Linked DNA regions of Homo sapiens: region 1 is linked to region 2. The links come from fine-mapping of genetic effects on gene expression. A gene starts in region 2. The other region holds a variant in brackets. All regions are shown on one strand. Distances are between the middles of the regions.

Region 1 (9,521 bases), 26 kb before region 2:
GAGCCAGAGAAACAAGAGAAAAACTAGTATAATGTGATGTAATAAAAATAGATTTAAGGATTACGGAGTGGTCAACTATCAACGCTGAAAACAGGACGAATAAAAACAGATTGCATTTGGTGCTATGACAGGCTGAAATTTTCACACTACAATTCAGATGTGCAAAAAAACCTTTATTACCTAGCATTGATTTGCTCTTGCCATGACTCATCATTTCTGTTGATACCAGAAAAAGTACTTCAATTAATTGAAAGCATTTCTTTCACTTTAAAAGCATTTTTTCATATTTACCGATCCTTTCAATATTCCTTCCCTGCCCTCCTTTCCTCCTCCCGGGTGCCATGGGGCATATGGAGGCAGTGGGAGTCTTGTGCTCCCCAAGCTGTTGCTGGCGCATTCTGACCTCTGCTGGATAACCATTGTCCTGTGCAGTGTTGCCAGTGTAGCTGGTCCCGCCTAATCTTGGCATCACATTATTAACTACTGAGAACTGTAGACCTTGCCATTTTGTCTGGTCATAATGTTCCCACACTTTGTGGTTTTCTAATTCCAGTTCCAGGTCACTTCTTGTCCGCTAACCTCCTCAGGCCTCTTTTCCTATGCTTCTCTATTGCTCCCATGCTGCATTAGAAAATGCAAGTCTTCTTTGAGAAGCTTCCACTTGTGGGGAAGGGGAGTACTAATTCCAATGCTTCTTTAGTTCCCTCAAAAATATTTAAATGATTCTACTCCATTGCCCCTCCCATATTTGATCCCAAAGCAGAGAGCAGCAAGGACATTTGTGTTTAATATCTTGTCACTTTTTTCTTTCTTGGCTTCTCTTCCCAGTAGTAGAAGAGCTTTCTCCCCATCTGTGTATCAGGGGCCTACTGTACATTTTTCATCTTCTCTATATTCTGGTTTATTACACTATATCTTGAAGCTCTTACTATATTAGAAGAATTTCTGGAATGTAGAAAAGTGTCTTACTTTCTATATAGTCTTCCTTATAAAGCCATTGTATTCCTGTGGATTTAAATAAATCTGGTTGAAATCTCAAACTGAGCAATGATTCTTTCTCACCTGGCTTCTCTCTGCCTCCATGAAACAATGAATGGCTGAGTGGAGAAACTGTGGGACAAGCAGAAATTAGAGATTATCAGAAATGAAAATAGCTTTACATTTCAAAATTATCCCCATTTTATTAGTTAAGAAAATATTACTAGTGAACTAGTCTTATAAGGGCTGGTAGAGATAGGGGTTGAAGACAGGAAAAAGTGTTTGAATGAGAGACTGTTTCCAGAAAATATAAGAAGAGGCAGTTGTAAATTTGAAAGAAAGTTTAATGGCTGAGTGTGGTGGCTCAAGCCTGTAATTCCAGCACTTTGGGAGGCTGAGGTGGGCGGATCACCTGAGGTCAGGAGTTTGAGACCAGCCTGGCCAACACAGTGAAACCCTGTCTCTACAAAAGATACAAAAAATAACTGGGTGTAGTGGTGGGCACCTGTAGTCCAGGCTACTCGGGAGGCTGAGGCAGGAGAATTGCTTGAACCCGGGAGTTGGAGGTTGCAGTGAGCCAAGATCGCACCACTGTACTCCAGTCTGGGCAACAGAGTGAGGTTCTCTCTCAAAAAAAAAAAAAAAAAAAAAAAAAAAGCTTAGCCTTAGACAGGAAAGGTCTTTTCAAAACTCAAGGTTCAATTAATACCTTCTAGGGTAAACACTTACTTTTATTAGAACAGTGTTTCCCAAATATAGGCATAAAAATCACTGCGGATATTTTTAAAAATTTAATTTCCAGGCCCCACCTAACGGAGTCTATAACAGTAGGTTTGGAATAGTGCACAAGACTCTCTATTTTTAATGAGTACCCCATGAAATTCTCATGATGAGGAGAGTTGGGAAATACTGCCAGGACACTAGTAAATGGCAAGTGTGTAACATTAAGAGTTAACTCAAAAATGACTAGACCATTTAAATAAGAGGAACTCAAACAAATAAGAAGCAAGGCTTTATGAGATTGTCACAAGGCAAAATAAACTGGCTTTTTCAGTTTTCTGCCTGGGAGCATGAAATTATTTTCACAAAAATGTCGAGTGTCCATAAAACTTGGCAAGACAACGACAGAAATCCCAGTGAAAAGCAACTCCTTGAGTCTGCTGCTTTTTAAGTAGGATTCATGTGAATATTTCTAAATTTCTAAGTACCAGATATGACCCCAAGCCAAAGTAATAATGTTCATTTTTATCATGCATTCAAGGTTCTATATTTAATAGTCCTTCTTGTTAGATTTAGCATAATAATATTCAATGTCCTGGTAATTGAATGAATTGTAATTGCATGCAGGCTGGATTAAAGAAAAGAAGAAAAGTAGTCATAACAGTCTTAATTACAAATTCTGATTTTAAAAATCTTTTTACATAGACTAAAACTTTCATTTGAGAAAGTTAGTTAAAATTCATCACAATACAATTCAATTTAGTGGTGATTCACCATGCCCGCCTTACCCACAAAATCAATGTCGTCTCCTCATTCTTCTTCTTTTCAAGACTGAAACATTGCCTTTGCAATGTTTTACTGCTCCATAATGCCCCCAAAGTCCCTTTCAATGAGAAAAGAACTAAAAACAATAAAATGCTCTCTCCTGATAGCATTGTTCTTCACTAAAAAACCCAGACATTTGGTTCCATTCAATTTGTTATACTCTTCTCAAGCAAGCCTTGCAGATTAGCCCCTTTTGAGAGAAACCATGCTCTTCAATAGCAGCAAAGCCTGAAAAGCCAGGGCACACTTTTTTTTTTCTTTTTTTTTTTTTTCAGAAGTGAAATTTTCACTATCATTGTGACTAAAACAAAAGCTTTTCCCAAGAGCATTACAAATGTTCCTTTTCTCTCTGCAGGGAAGCCTGGCCATTATGAATCCATAGCAGAAATTACTTGTTAGTGTTAGGATTAGTTTAAATATTTTATTTTTCTCCTCAAGACTCCATTGAAGTTGATTAAGCAAAGGATACAAAAAAGATTCCCTAGGCCTCTGTTTGGCTAAATGTAAGAAAACTTTATCTAAAATAAAGTGAGGGGAAAAAGTTACCCATTGGAAGGGATCTTAAAGTTTATCTGGCCAAAACTCTTAATTTTACACAAAAGAAAACTGAAGCTCCTTAATATATAAGATGATTGACCCCAGTTATTGCCTTCCCCAGTAATTTTAGTGGTCACTTTGATTGGTACTAGCATATTCCCCAAATCTGCAATTAGCAGAGCAAAAGAGACATTTCTGAGGATTCAATATGGGAAACAGACTTTAAAAAATTTCTTTGTTAGATCATTATTTGAACATGCATTTCCTCAAGAAATGTTTGTGAGCCTGTATAGACTTTTCTTTATTTGTAAGCAATCTTGATTTCTGTCTGATAATTTTCCTACATTATTCATCCAGAGCAGAAAAGGTGATGGTGATGGTTACATGATGTAGACTGCCATGAATTTTTTCAACCTGTTATTTAGTCATGGTTTGACTACCACAAAATCAGAATAAGAGATTGCAAGTTTCCCATAAATTCAGAAAATATTCTAGCAGCTGAGAACCAATACTATCAAAAGTCTACAGTGAGATTTGAATCCATTTCTAAGAAAACCAGACAATGAAATCTATGAGGTTACTAAAAGTTTACTGATATAATATTATAATATTATGAAAGTGCTAGTGTATCTCCACTGAAATCAACCATTTACTTCCTTCCCAGTAGAATATTGGACAAATAAATGAGATAGTTTCATATTCCGATTTATAAACAATATCTGCTGCAGAGGGAAAGCCCTGGCAAGTATCTTCTATGCTTCACTTTAATGGCAGTCAGCCAGAGAAGGTGATTGCATCCAACAGCAATCACTCCCACTTCAGAGACCAGGAGAGTCAGGGAAAAAAGTTTTCTTCTTCCCCAAAGTTGTCAGCTACCATCCAGGTCTAAGACTTGCCTGCCTTCCTTTACCCATCTCATTTCTGTGACGTCCCTTTAAAGGCTCGCTTTCTTTCTTTCCCTCCCTTCCTTCCTTCCTCCCTCCCTCTTTCTTTCTCTTTCTTTCCTTCTTTCTTTCTTTCTTTCTTTCTTTCTCTTTCTTTCCTTCTTTTCTTTCCTTTTTCTTTCTTTCTAGACAGGGTCTCACTCTGTCACCCAGGCTGAAGTGCAGTGGTGTGATCACAGCTTACCACAGCCTCGACTTCCTGGGCTCATGTG[G/T]TTCTCCCACCTCAGCCTCTTGGGTAGCTGCGAGTACAGGTATGAGCCATCACTCCTTGCAAATTTTTTGGTACTTTTTGGTAGAGATGGGGTTTCGTCATGTTGCCCAGGCTGGTCTCAAACGCCTGGGCTCAAGTGATCTGCCTGCCTTGGCCTCCTAAAGTGCTGAGATTACAGGTGGTGAGCCACCGCGCCCAGCCTAAAGCCCCTCCTAACCAAAATCAGCAAGAATAAAGAATCTAACCCTGTCCTTAAGGGGACTTTATAGTGCCCTGGGTTATTGACAAGGGCTAGGACTCAGCAAAACTTCAGGTCATGTACAGCATCTTACTCGAAAATGAAAAGGGTTTATAGGCAGCTGTTTACTAGGCATCCATCTCTAGGCAGTGATGAGCACAGCTGACTTGGCTTCCCTGCAAAGATGTGATGGTTTCTAGTGTAAGGCAAGTATGGTCTCTCTGAATGCCTTGGCTCAGCTTGCAGGAGTCTTCCTCGTGTTTGCCATTCTCTCTGTGTTGAAATCTCTCCTTTATCTGAGGCCTCTCTATGCCACGTTATCCCTTTGAACACAAGTTATACTGTCTCCTATAAAGTCTTATCACATAACTCTCCTTCTCATTACCCAGGATAGATGAAAAGTGGGAGGGAGGTGGGCAAGGTAATTTGCTTCTCTCTTTGCTCTCTTTCCAATGCATACACTCTAATCCCCCCATCCGTCTAGGCTCTTGATTTTCAAGAATTTGCCTATGAAATGTAAATTTTTATTAAAAATTCCACCACCCAGATCAAGCAACAGAACAAAAACAGAACCCAAAAGGAGCTCTTCTACTCCTTCTAGTCACTGTAACCAAAGGAGTAACTAATATCCTGACTTTTAACACCATGTATTAGTTTTGCCTGCTTTTGAGCTACATATAAATGAAATTATATAGTATGGTCTCTTTTACCAATTGTTTCTTTTACTTCTTTTTGTGAGAGTCACCCATGTTGTTGTATGTAGTCATAGTTCAAGAAACTACCTTTGAAGTCTAAAAAGAGTTCATTAACTGTTCTATTTGCATTTTTTGTACCGATCTGAAATCTTCCATAGCAATGTGGATATTTGTGGTAAAGAGGGGACAGATTGGAAAAGTCAAAGAAATAAAAGAACAAAACTTAACATTTCCAGATCTTATTGTCAAAAAAGGTACAATTTTTAAAATACTAGTTTAATGTATTTGGGGATATATCCACAGTATACATAATTCTATTTTATGTATTAAATGTGTATATATGATATCATAGATTCTTTTTTTTTTTTTTTTTGAGACGGAGTCTCGTTCTGTCACCCAGCCTGGATTGTAGTGACACGATCTCAGCTCACTACAAGCTCTGCCTCCCGGGTTCACGCCATTCTTCCGCCTCAGCCTCCTGAGTAGCTGGGACTACAAGCGCCCGCCACCACGCCCAGATAATTTTGTTTTTGTATTTTTAGTAGAGACGGGGTTTCACCGTGTTAGCCAGGATGGTCTCGATCTTCTGACCTCGTGATCTGCCCGCCTTGGCTTCCCAAAGTGCGGGGATTACAGGTGTAAGCCACCGCACCTGGCGATTCTTTTTAAATATTTTATTTTTTACAGCTTTATAGAGGTATGATTGATATATAATAAACAGCACATACTAAACTATACGATTTGATGTCTGACATATGTGAAATCCATGAAACTATCACCACAATTAGTATTATAAAATATCCATCATTCAAAAATTTTCTTTGTGCTCCTTTGCAATTTATCCCTCGCTACCTCCCATCCTGCCCCAAAGCAACCACTGATCTGTTGCCTTTTGTTACTCCGGATTAGTTTGTAGGTGGGCTTCATTTAATCAGTTGAAGTCCTGATATTAAAAAAAGGCCCTCGTTTTCCATTTTCAGGAAGAATTTATGTAAGATTGGTAATATTTCATCTTTAAATGTTTGGTAGAATTCACCAATGAAGTCACCTGGGCCTGGAGTTTTCTTTTGAGACCACACATTTAACTTCTTTATTAGATATAGAGCTATTCACATTGTCTATTCCATTTCAATGAGCTTTGATAATTTGTTTCTTTCAAGGAATCTGTCCATTGTTGTCAAATTTATTGGCATAAACTTGTTTATAATTTTCTTATTTTCCTGCAAATGTCTACATGATCTGGAGTGATGTGTTCTCTCTCATTCCCAATATCAGTCTGGCTAGAGGTTTATGAATTTTGCTATTTTTCTCAAATAACCAGTTTTGGGTTTTATTGAATCACTGTTTGCCTGTTTATTATTTTTAATGTTATCTTTAAATTTTCCTTTTCCCTGATTACTTTGAGTTTTATTTTATCTCCTTTCTCTAGTTTCCTATGTACAACTATAGATCATTGATTTGAGACCTTGTTTACAATGTAGACATTTAGTGCTATACATTACACTCTAAGCATTGCTTTAGCTGTATATCACAGATTTTTAATGGGATGTGTTCCCCCTTTCCTTTAGATCAAAATGCTTTGTAAAGATCTTTCAGTTATTAAAGGCATAATAATGTTTTATATTATAAACAACTTAATGGCAGTAAACCCAACTGAAATGAAATGGATAAATTTCCTGAAAGACACCAACTACCACAACTTGCTCAACAAGAATAGGAAACTGAAATAGTCAGTGGTCAAGCGAAAAAAAATTTGAATTTTTTTTTTTTTTTTTTTTTTTGAGACAGTCTTGCTCTGTTGCCCAGGCTGGAGTGCAGTGGCGCAATCTTGGCTCACTGCAAGCTCCACCTCCTGGATTCACGCCATGCTCCTGCCTCAGCCTCCCGAGTAGCTGGGACTACAGGCACCTGCCACCACACCTGGCTAATTTTTTTTTAGTAGAAACAAGGTTTCACCACATTAGCCAGGATGATCTCAATCTCTTGACCTCGTGATCCGCCCACCTCAGCCTCCCAAAGTGCTGGGATTACAGGCGTAAGCCACCGCGCCCAGCCAAAAAATTGGATTTGTAGCTAATATCTTTCCCAGGAAGAATACTCCAGGCCCAGATGGCTTCACTAGTGAATCCTATTAAATGTTTAAGGAAGCAATAAGGCCAATTTTACAGAAAATGTCCCTAAAAATGAAATAGGAGGAAATATTTTCCAACTCATTCTATGAGGCTAGCATTACTTATACCAAAACTAGACAAAAGATATTACAAGAAAAAAAAACTGCAGATCAACTTTCTTCATTAACACAGGTGCAACCAAATGAGCTAACCTCAGTAATGAAAAAAAGTTCATTCAATATTTAACAGTTAATGCCGTTTTCTATATTAACAGACACAAAAAGAAACAAGAAAAACCACATGATCATCTCAATAGATGTATACCAAGTATTTGACAAAATTCAATATCTATTTATTATAAAAATCTCTCAACAACAAAGAATAGAAGGGAATTTTCAACCTGATATAGCATCTAAGATAATTCACAGTTAACATCACAGTTAAAATACATTTTACATCATAACATTTACATCATACATGTAAATGACCTAATGCCTTTTTTCCTAAGATTAGGACTAAAGCACAAATATCTGCTTTATCTACCTTTATTCAACGTATTACTGGAAGTTCTAGCCAGTGAAATAAATAAAGGTAACAGAATATAAGTTGAAAAGAAAGAAGTAAAACTGTCTATATTCTCAGAAGATATGATCATCTATGTAGAAAATCTTAAAGAATCTACGAAAAACTACTAGAACTGAAGTAGGGAGTTTAGCAAGGTTGAAGAATACCCAATCAGTATACAAAATTGATTGCATATTCATATATTAGGAACAAACAACTGGAAATTGAAATTTAAAAACCAATATCATTTATAACCACATCAAAAACAATGATATACTTAAAGATAAATTTAGCCAAGAATGTATAAGACTTGCACACTGAAAACAGTAAGACATTGGTGAAAAAAAACTAAAGAAGACCTAAGAAGATGAAATTATACATATGTGTGTTGGAAGACTCAATATTTTTAAGATGATAATTCTTCCCAAATTAACGTATAGATTCAATGAATCCTAATCAAAAATACTTGCAGGATTTTTTACAGAAGTTGACAAGCAGATTCTAAAATTCATATGGAAAGGCAAAGGATCTAATCTAGCCAAAAATTTTTGAAGAAGTTTAAAATTGGAAATCTCACACTATCTGATTTCAAGGCTTATAATATAATGCTACAGTAGTCATGATAGTGTCATATTGTGTATGAAGAGATATATCAATCTATGGAACACAAAAGAAAGTTCAGAAATAGCCCCACACACACTGCCTGTAGTCCCAGCTACTCAGGAGGCTGAGGCAGGAGAATTGCTTGAACCCGGGAGGCAGAGGTTGCAGTGAGCCAAGATCATGCCACTGCACTCCAGATCATGCCACTGCACTCCAGCCTGGTGACAGCGCAAGACTCTGTCTCAAAAAAAAAAAAAAAAAGCCCCACATAAATATGGCCAATCGATTCTTTGCAAAAATGTCAAGGTAATTCATGAGAGAAAAAGTCCTTTCAACAAAATGTGCTATAATGGTTGAATACACATATGCAAAAATGACTTTCACCATGGCCTCACATCATACACAAAATTAATTTGGATTGGGTCATAGACATAAATGTAAAACTAAAAGTATGATGCCTCTAGAAAAAAATGAATGAGAAAATCTTTGTTGCCTTGGGATAGGCAAAGCCACTGTTAAAAAAAAAAATGAAAACGCAAGCCACTGCAATTACTGAAAGAAAACATTTGCTAAATGTATATTCCATAAAGAATTTCTATTCAGAATATATAAGAGAACTCTTAGAATTCAATAAGAAGACAAACAACCTGATAAAAATTTGGGTGATGGGTTTTAATAGATGTTTCCCCAAATAAGATATATAAAAATGATAAATATATGAAAAGATGATCAATCTAGTTATTGGGAAATTAAAACTACAGTAAGATACCATGACCCAACACTAGAATGGCAAAAATTTAAAATACAAATGCCAAGTGTTTATGTAGATGTAGAGTAACTGGGACCAAAATCCTAGGTCTCTCTCTTTCTTTCTCTCCCTCTCTCCATATATATATATATATATATATATATATATATTCACATATCCACATAAATATCTGCATTTAAATATTTATACCAGACTTATTAACAATAGCCAAAAATCATAAACAACCCAATTGTCTACTGATGACTAGATAAATAAGCTTTACCATAAGCATTCAGTGGTATGCTCTAACAATAAAAAATAACAAACCGTTGATATACATAATGACA
Region 2 (9,521 bases):
TAGACCCTCGCTGGAACAGGTCATGGTCACAGAGCCACCTTCTTGCAGCTTTGTGGATGGATTCACAGAAATAACTGTATTCTTGGGTGATACTGAAAGGGCAAAAAATAATATTAGCAATTGCTAAGCATCATCCCAGTGCAACAGAGGTAATGTATTTCTCTTAGTATTTATGTGCTTCCACCAATTTGATGAAATTACTCTGCCAAATTAGTATAAAGAACTGCTGAATCATTCAAAATAGTCTATCCAGTTTCTGACTAAACTGATCAAGTTTAGTTGATGTTTCATATTTTTCAGATGGTTGTAGATACTCAGAAATTAAGAAAAACCATGTGGCTTAACCTCCCACTTAAGGGTAAGAGTCCCATTTAAGCATTCTTGCCAAGTGCCCATTCAAGTCAGCTTCAACATTTACTGAGAGAATCAACCCACTGCTTTCCAAAAGAGTCAATTTGATTTTTGGACAGCTCTACATATTAGCACATTTCTCCCTATTGAGCTGAAATCTTCTCTCTATACTATTTTAAACATATTGGCCATAATTCAGCCCTGTGCTGTTACAGAATAAGGTAAATCACTCTTTCATATAACTGTCTTTCAAATGCTTAATTAGATGTCTTTTCCAGCCAGGTTTTGTTTTCTCTTCAGAAAAATATCCTCTATCTTGACTATTCTTCTCAAAATATTGTTAAAAGCCTTCCCAGCTCATTCTCTTTCAGCTAAACATGCCGTAGTTGGCAATACTCCCTTTAAATGTGGTACCCAGTGCAGAACATAGCATTTTAGTCCAGAACAGAGCACAGTGAGGCCACTCCTACACAACGCTGGGACTACAAGACTCCCACAAATCCCCTGGCAGTATCAGGGAGATTGGAGGCAATCAAACCCCGTCATTTTTCCCCTGTCCAGTGCACCTATGTATGTATGTGCATATGCATACACACACACACATACACACACAGAATAAGTGATCACCTTGTCAAGTTTCTGTACCTGTGCAACTAATAGTTCAAGGCATACTATAAGAGTTTACAAAACAATATTAAAATGTTTTATCATTTGAGCCTATTTCCCACTACCCAATCAGGTGGTATTACTATTCCCCTTTTATACACTGGGAAATAGAGAAATTAAGTAACCCAAACTCACACAGTTAATAGAGCCAGAAATTAAGCTCAAGCCTTCTCAGTCCAAATCCAGTGTTCTTTTCACTGAATTATACTATTGACAAACATTATGTTGTGAATGAATACAAATGGAATACAAACTATATACAAGTTTTTTTTTTTTTTACTTTTCTGCTAAGTTTATTGCTATACACAACCAAGGTGGGATTCCCACAAAGACTGGAACACATCGCACAAGTACTTACTGTAGACTTGCAATTCTTTTACAGCCTGCCTTACTGTGGGCACAGAATCCATTTCATCAATGTGTAATTTAGCTCGGCAAACAAGAACTTTTCCAATATCCTCAATGACAGGAGTAAAGGTTACTTCCAAACTCTTGGTTTCCAGGGACTTCCTGTCTGCATCCTCCAGAAATTCCTGACTCTTCATGAGATGATCTCCTTTCAGTAAGTCTATCTCCAGCCTGTCAAATGGGTATACATCAGCAACTGAACACTTGACTGTGATCGGCTTCCCAGCCTCCAGAGGGCCACTCAAATGAATCTCTGGATCCTTAGGAAAAGCTGAAAAGGCCAAACAAATACATGGATGGGCTTTTTGCTAATGTGATATAAGGTCTCTTACCACTTTAACACAATACAAATCAAGTCTAGCGTTTTTGTTAATACAGTCTTAATACGACAGAACTGTTTGAATAGCCTTTCATGATTTGGGGTGAGTTCAAGGCACAAGAATTGGAAGCAAACATTTTTTACAACATTATTCAATTCTGATCCTGTATATATTAAGAGTTGCATGTTATTACAGTAAAAGAAAGAAGAAAAAATAATGTTTATATTGAACCTTACATGTGGCTGTCACTGTGCTATAGATTTAACATGAATGATTTCATTTTATCCTCACAATAACTCTAGGAGATAGAGATCACATTTCACAGAAAAGAAGACCTGGACTTAGTACATTTACATAACTTGTCTAAGGTCACACACCTAGTAAATGGTAAAGCTGGGATTTAAACTCAGGATTTCCATTATTGTGTTTTGCTACTACAGATTTACATTATGTTACATCACATTTTCTTATTATAGTCAGGGCAGATATATTTCCATTTTACAGATAATGACTGTAAGCCTTGGAATGTCATTGCAAAGAATAGTTATTGTCAAGATATTCTAAGAAATGAGAAGACCAACTTTAAGTAATTAGCTTCTGAAAATGGTGCCTCTGACAGGAATTCATCCACCAGAAAGATACATTTGTGCAATCTTTATGTTCTGGAACACATATTTGCCTCCTGAAATGCCTAACTCACTATCCCAACAAGTGTTCCATTGAAGCTTCTAGTACAAGGAAATACACTACTTCACGTGGCCATTGCCTCCTTTGCAAGAGTTACCTTTTTCATTATGCATTATGATGAAGTAACATATTGGTGGATTCAAAACTGTGTAGCAAAAAGAATACAAAGGTCTCAACTCTAACCACTATTACAATCAAATGCGGAAAGGAGACAGAACTGTTATACATAATGAGAAACAGACACTCTTGGAGAAAAACCTCAGGCAAGATAATTAAAACCAGAAGCGTCTTCATTTCTCTTTCTTAAATCTTCAACTATTTGGTACTAGTGGGCAAAAGACAAAGGAGCTGGAAATTCTTTCCTATGTGAAGAAACATGGTATTTTTCATTTTTCCAGCAATAATTTCTGTCCCTCATATTCTGTAAGAAATGTTCCTCTAATCCACACAGTTCGATGTCAGGTAACATAAGAACTTGCTACTTTTCCCTGTATTTACATAAGGGAAGCTTTCAAGGAGCTCGGGAGGCTGCACAGACATAAACTATGCACATACAACCAGCATAATTGAAAGCAGCCGGCCAAGCACAGTTTCTTGGGAAGCTTGAGCAACACATGCGGTTTGTTGCAGAATCAATTAAGGTTACTGGGAAAAGTTGAGCTCCGGTACAATAAAACGAAACCAAAGTAATTATAATCAAATGAGGTCTTCATGAAGACATGACCGTAAATGGGTTCAGTTTTTTAGAAAGAGAGGCCATCAGTAACAAAAGGCAAATGATTTATGTCTGGTTAGTTTTTTACTCCTCTTGCTAACTTTGTTTGCTGAATGGAGAATGGAGTGGGATGCATTTTGTCAGGCTGGTAAACTAGGGACATCCACTCACTTTCATGAGGCAAATCTAGTTCATTATATAAATATCTTTGAAGTTGAGCGGTTGAGCACCAAGGCTTCATGGCACCAAAAAAACCAAAAAAAAATCCTAAATGTGTCAACACCAAAGTCAAATGATTGAAATGTTTCCAGATATTAACAATTATGTCTAAGAAGAACACTTTTATACTAATACATATTACTAATTATAGATCTACTTAATGTTTAAACTAATTTTAAGCATCAAATTGCATAAGAATAAATGAATAGAAAATCCCTGAAGGATGGAATTCATAAATCAATCAGACACATAAGCAAGTAAACATGTAAGGATGTAATCAAATGGAAATATTTTTTAATAAAACAAAAAGAAACTTAGAAATGATCATTTTACAGCTAAGGAAACCAGAGCCCAGAGAGGTTGAGTCTTATACATGGTCACTGTGTTTGTGGCAGAGGTAGAAATAGAAGCCAAGATTTGGATTCCTGCTCTCTCTCATGTTGGCCTTAGCTGTCCCTAGCTTTCCTGATGTTGTATGTTCTTTAGCCAAGAATCTGTACATGAATATCCATTTTAAAACTTTTTTTAAAATATCATTTTTAAAAAGTGATTTTAAAGTAAAATTGAGAGAAAAACAAAGATTTTCTAAAGCACTCACAGTAGATCTCCACCTGGATTCCTTTTTCCAATTTCCTAGATTCACAAGTTGCTGTGCACAGGTAAGAGTGTTCGTTCCCAAAACTAACAGGATTCATTGTCAGCGTAGATGTGGTCCCCTCATTCGTCACCTTCCCATTCAGTGGACTATCTATCTGGGTTCTCCAAGAGAAAAATGGGGACTCACAGCCTGTGGTGCTGCAAGTCAATGAGACGGAGTCACCAATCTGAGCAAGATATCTAGATTCTGGGGTGGTCTCGATTTTAAAAGCTTGAGCTGCAAAAGCAAAAAAAGACAGAAGCAAATTTACCACTAGTTTGTCTAGTATTCTCCTCCTTCTTCTCTGTATAATGTCTAAAATATGATCAGACTGATCTCTTTCCTAAGCTGCTTCAAACTAACTGCAAGGTAGCCAAAAAGCACCGAAGTCACTGCCAAAAAAGTTTATGGAATCATCTTCAGTAGAGAGAATTCTCAGTTCCAACCTTGATGCCCATTTATCAAAGCTGTTTTGTTATTTGCTAAGTTTGACCTCATTGTCAAGTATAGGAAACTAAAGAGACAGACCGACTAGAGACAGAATCCAAATTACTCAATTGCCTTTGGAAAAAAAGATACCAAAAACATCAATTTTCAGCTCTAACTATGACAGTACAATGGTATATAGCAAAACTCAATTGCATATTAAAAGTTAGACTAAATTAACTTTTCCTACTGTTTAAAATCCTAGTGTCTTTACTTCACTACTATCGCAAAACTGACTGAAGCCAAAACCAGGGCTAAAATTGAATGCTAACATTTGAAACAGATGAAGGGAAATAACTTACAAGCTGCAAACATTATCCAAAGTATATTTGAGGCTCCAAGGATCACGACCATCTTCCCAGGCATTTTAAGTTGCTGTCGTGATGAGAAAATAGTGGTTCCAAAACCCTTATTTGTGTCCCACCTGTGTGTGCCTGGGAGGGTATTCAGCTCCTGAAGCCAGTGAGGCCCGATGCAGATACCGCGGAGTGAAATAGAAAGTCTGTGCTTTATAAAGGGTCTTGTTGCAGAGGCGGAGGGAAATCCCTTCAAGGGGAAACCCAGGGCAGAGCCAGGGAAAAAAGTTTAACAGACACCCAGCCAAGTTCCACTATTAACCCCTTCAGTTGCTCTCACTGCTGAAGCTCCTCTCTCTGTCCTGGCAAAAGAAGACACTTCCAAGACTATAAAATACAGGCTTTTCCTCATCTTCGACTCCAAAAGGCTATCTTTACTGGAAAGATAAAGGACAATGCTGATTGCAGAATGAAGCTTTCTGAATCCAATGTGGGTTAAGGGGGTGGGGAGAGAAAAAATGGAGACAGAGTAGTAAATTCTACTCTGGTTTTTGAACTGGATAAATAACGACTATGCCATGTGAATTGATTTTCTCCATCAAGGAAATATGTTTGCAATTCTAAAAGAGATTAATTTTTTTCTCTTACAAGAGAAAGGAAAAAGTTATTTCTTTTGATGAGTCATTTTTTAAAAAAGGGACACCATAACTTCTTAGTTTTATATTTATTCATAAAAATAGTTCTTTTAGCAACAAACATCAACTTTTTGAAACTATTTTCTTGAGTAGAAAGTAAAGGACTGTAACTGAAATTGCTGCCAAAACAAGGGAAACAATTTTTTTTTGTTTTAGAAAAGTTACCAATAATTTGGTTAAATTGCTGGATAATTGGAATTTTTTTGCATACTTAAATGCAAGTGTATGGAATCCATCTGAAGTGGCAAATCTCTTGGGCTGTGAGATTTAACCGCAAACCCAGTTAAAAAATTAAAAATAATAGGTTTTTATTATAGGCAAGGGGACAATAACCAACTCTATGTTCCTTTTCCCCCCAGTGAAGTGCCTTTTTAAAAAAATCCCAATTAACTAACTGGCTTAGCCTTGCACACACATAGCCCAAGGCCTTGCAAAATGCTTGCCCATCAAAAAGAAACCGGAATAGCCACTTCCTTTTATTAAACACGTGCAGGTCTATCTCCCCCATTGGATCATCAGTTCCTCTCATGGTCAGGACCAGTTCTTGTTCATTGTTGTATCTACTTCTACAATATCTAATGCATGATTTTCCACTTAGTGGATACAAAAAATGCAATAATAAACGTTATACATTTGGAGAAGAAAATTCTAAATACTAGCAATAATATGTAAATACGGCATGAAAAAACTGTTAAATTCTACAAGAAAATTCTAAAGCTCAGAGACTCAATGGGATGTGTACAATAAACTTGTACTATATAACATTTGTACTCTGTAACAAAGGCCATAGCTGAGGTCTGGAATCTATAACTGTCCCTACCTGGTTGGAGAGGCTTCTGGATCTCCTCTTGGATACTGATGTGGCTCCCACTAAAAGACAAGGAGGGAAAAATAAGTTGGAGATGCTGTTCTAGGGTGTGGGGATATATAGGTATGACTTCACCTACCAAATATCTAGGGATCAGAAAAATTGATTCAGGAAATACTAGCTTATAAACAAGTAACCCAGAGGTCCTTTACAGTGTTTGTGTCATCATCATGTAAATTCACTACTTAACTTCAGAATAGATCAAAAGGGTATTATGGAGTTTTAATATGTTCCTTTGAGGCTCAAAGACAATGGCCAATAGGATCCTTGGGATCATTATGACCAAGCTATGTTGTTCTGAGTTTGGATATGATTCGAAGCTTGCAACATTGGAGAAATGCCTAATCTATTCATTTAACTCATAGTGGTCTTGGCAAATGTTTGATCAAGTCCCTCACTATATCTTTGAGTTGGATGACATCTGAAGTCCTACCTGCTCCTCCCAGGTTGAGAGGATTGCACCCTCCTCGGTGGCCTCACTACAACAAGTGCATATTGATGGAGCATTTATCATTCTGCATTTACTGATTAATATGCCTATATTTTCTACTTTGCTAACTCATATGGTTTCATTTTTTCATCTCAGCATTTAGCTTAAAATAAAGCATTTATTAAAATTTGCAGAATTAATGAATGATCAGAGTTGCAAGTATAAGGTTAACAGATTTAGACTAACCTGTCTGAATAAAGTACTACTGAGTTTTGTCTTTGAACTTGTTCGGTTTAACCTTTTTATTAGTAGCATAAAGCACATAATATGGTTTGGCCTTGTCCCCACTGAAATATCATTTTGAATTCCCATGTGTTGTGGGAGGGACCCTGTGGGAGGTAACTGAATCATGGAGGCAAATCTTTCCCGTGCTGTTCTCATGATCGTGAGTAAGTCTCACAAGAGCTGACGGTTTTAAAAAGAGCAGTTCCCCATACAGAAGCTCTCTCTCTTTGCCTGCCACCATCCATGTAAGACGTGACTTGCTCCTCCTTGCCTTCCACCATGACTGTGAGGCTTCCCCAGCCAGGTGGAACTATAAGTCCATTAAACCTCTTTTTCTTCCTGGTTTTGGGTATGTCTTTATCAGCGTGTGAAAACAAACTAATACAGCACGTGATTATCTAACCTATTAATAATGCAAAACTGGGAAAGACAACCTTAGAGATGAGAGAAGCAAGATAAAGAAGACCTCAAGGTATGTAATAATATTCCAGATGACGAAGTAAAATTTAATAGGAATGCATTAAAGGTCAGCATTTAAATGTTTCCAATGTTTGAGTACAGTATGGGAGAGATCTGACTTGGTCACAATTCACAGAAAGAAGGTCTTGTGATTTTACGAACCATAAAAATGAACACTGCCATGAGAAATCAAAATAGCTGTGATGAGTCCAGGTTGCACTCCTAGTAATTCAACCTTCAAGTCTTCTGAGGCCACAGTCTCTGAGCACTACACACCCACCAGATCATACTGGGAGCCTGGGTGTCTAATTCAGAATGCCACTCCTTAAGAAAGATGCTGACGAAATTAAGGGTGTCCAGAGAAAAGTAATAGCTCCTATGTTGAAGAAAAAGGACATATTTTGTCTAGAGAAGAGGCACCCATGAAGCAATGTGATAACTGAATGATTAATGCACAGGGGAAGGAATTTACTTATTACTCTGTGCTATACCAAAAGCTAAAAGTACAACTCATATGTAGGCAATTACCAGATTATTAGCTCTAGAGGAACCAAGAATGTCTATGTCTTGTTCACCATTAGTGCTTCAGCACTTTTAACATAGTAACCAGTAGATACTAGGAGCTCAGTAAATCCCTACTGATTGAATATATAACAATTTAAAGGAGATCTGGACTCAGAGTCTAATAGTCTTGTCTTCAAGTCCAGGTATTCTACCTAGGAATTGTGAAACCTTGTACAACTATATGTAGCCTCTCAGAGCAGATTTACAAATGCTCAGATAGTATTATTTCAAGTGATTCATATCATTTTATGACTATCAATCAACACTGATCATATGAAATCTCTTAAAATAAATATAGTAAAATGCTATATAAATGGTATATGGTAATAATTAGAGTAGGGGGCTGGGGGAGGGATAGCATTAGGAGAAATGCCTAATGTAAATGACAAGTTGATGGGTGTAGCAAACCAACATGGCACATGTATACCTATGTAACAAACCTGCACATTGTGCACATGTACCCTAGAACTTAAAGTATAATAATTAAAAAAAGATACAATCATATTAAGTTGATTGTAAAAAGGACTTTCCAGTTAAATCTTTTCAATAATGCAATAGATCACCTTTTGAATTCACTAGCTATTAATCACTGGAGTATTCAAGCAAAGGTTGGATGACATCTGTGAACAATATGGTAGAAGTCAAGTTTTGCCTTGAGACATAGAACTGGATGGCCATTAAGTTGCCCTCCAATGCTAAGATTCTGTTATCAGGGTCAGCACTCTCCATTGTTTCTAGTCTAGCTTCACCAACCCCTTCACTGTCCACATCAAAATTATAATCATCTTCTGATGCTGCTGTATCAGTTGGTATCTCAATCGGGCTCTGAGATACTTCAGGCATACTTCTTTCCACTTATTTAATAACTACTGAATGCATTGCAACTCCAACACTTTCAGGACTTCCAATTAGTCAATTTATTATGAGCCTCCCTGAAGCAGAGATGATTCTGAACCTTTTTTCTTGGGTGGCCTAACACATCTTAGGGAAGTGACATTCTTAGCAGTAACTGTGGCTCACTGTGGAAGCAATTCTTTCTTTTATTTTTTTATTTTTTATTTTTATCCTTGCAAGAATATGGCAGCAATTCTTACCCAGATGAGAGGAGTATTTTTTTTTGCAGGGCATTATCAGAATGGGGTAGAAAAAGTGAAAAACCATCTCAGTAGATTCTATAATGTCAACTACTTCCCCACTAAGCTAGACAGAGTCAAAGGATCTATATCTATGACTCCATTTGCCTTTATGTAACAGAAACCTTTCACAGTGGCTTAATTAAATAGAGGTCTACGGGTACACAGTTCAAGGCTGGACCAACTACCAGAGAGAAACATCAAGGACCAAGATTGATTTCAGATCCAGTTTTATCATCTTTTACGTGTAACAAACCCTCATAATTCTAAGATGGCTTTGTCATCAAACAGTACATCTGCAT

Evidence for each region.
Region 1: its variant is fine-mapped to the expression of VCAM1 in whole blood (TOPMed, PIP above 0.99).

What each region holds. Positions count from the first base shown.
Region 1 is chr1:100,741,080-100,750,600 of GRCh38, reverse strand. No RefSeq gene overlaps it. Among named protein-coding and RNA genes, the nearest start is that of VCAM1, 26 kb to the right of the region's middle. RefSeq lists enhancers at 4,406-4,455, 4,546-4,635. The variant G/T (reference allele first, on the strand shown) is at 4,217.
Region 2 is chr1:100,715,195-100,724,715 of GRCh38, reverse strand. It overlaps VCAM1 (vascular cell adhesion molecule 1), which reads right to left and starts at 4,974. Exons shown (of 9, transcript NM_001078.4): 1 at 4,792-4,974; 2 at 3,965-4,240; 3 at 1,376-1,696; 4 at 1-92. The coding sequence starts at 4,855.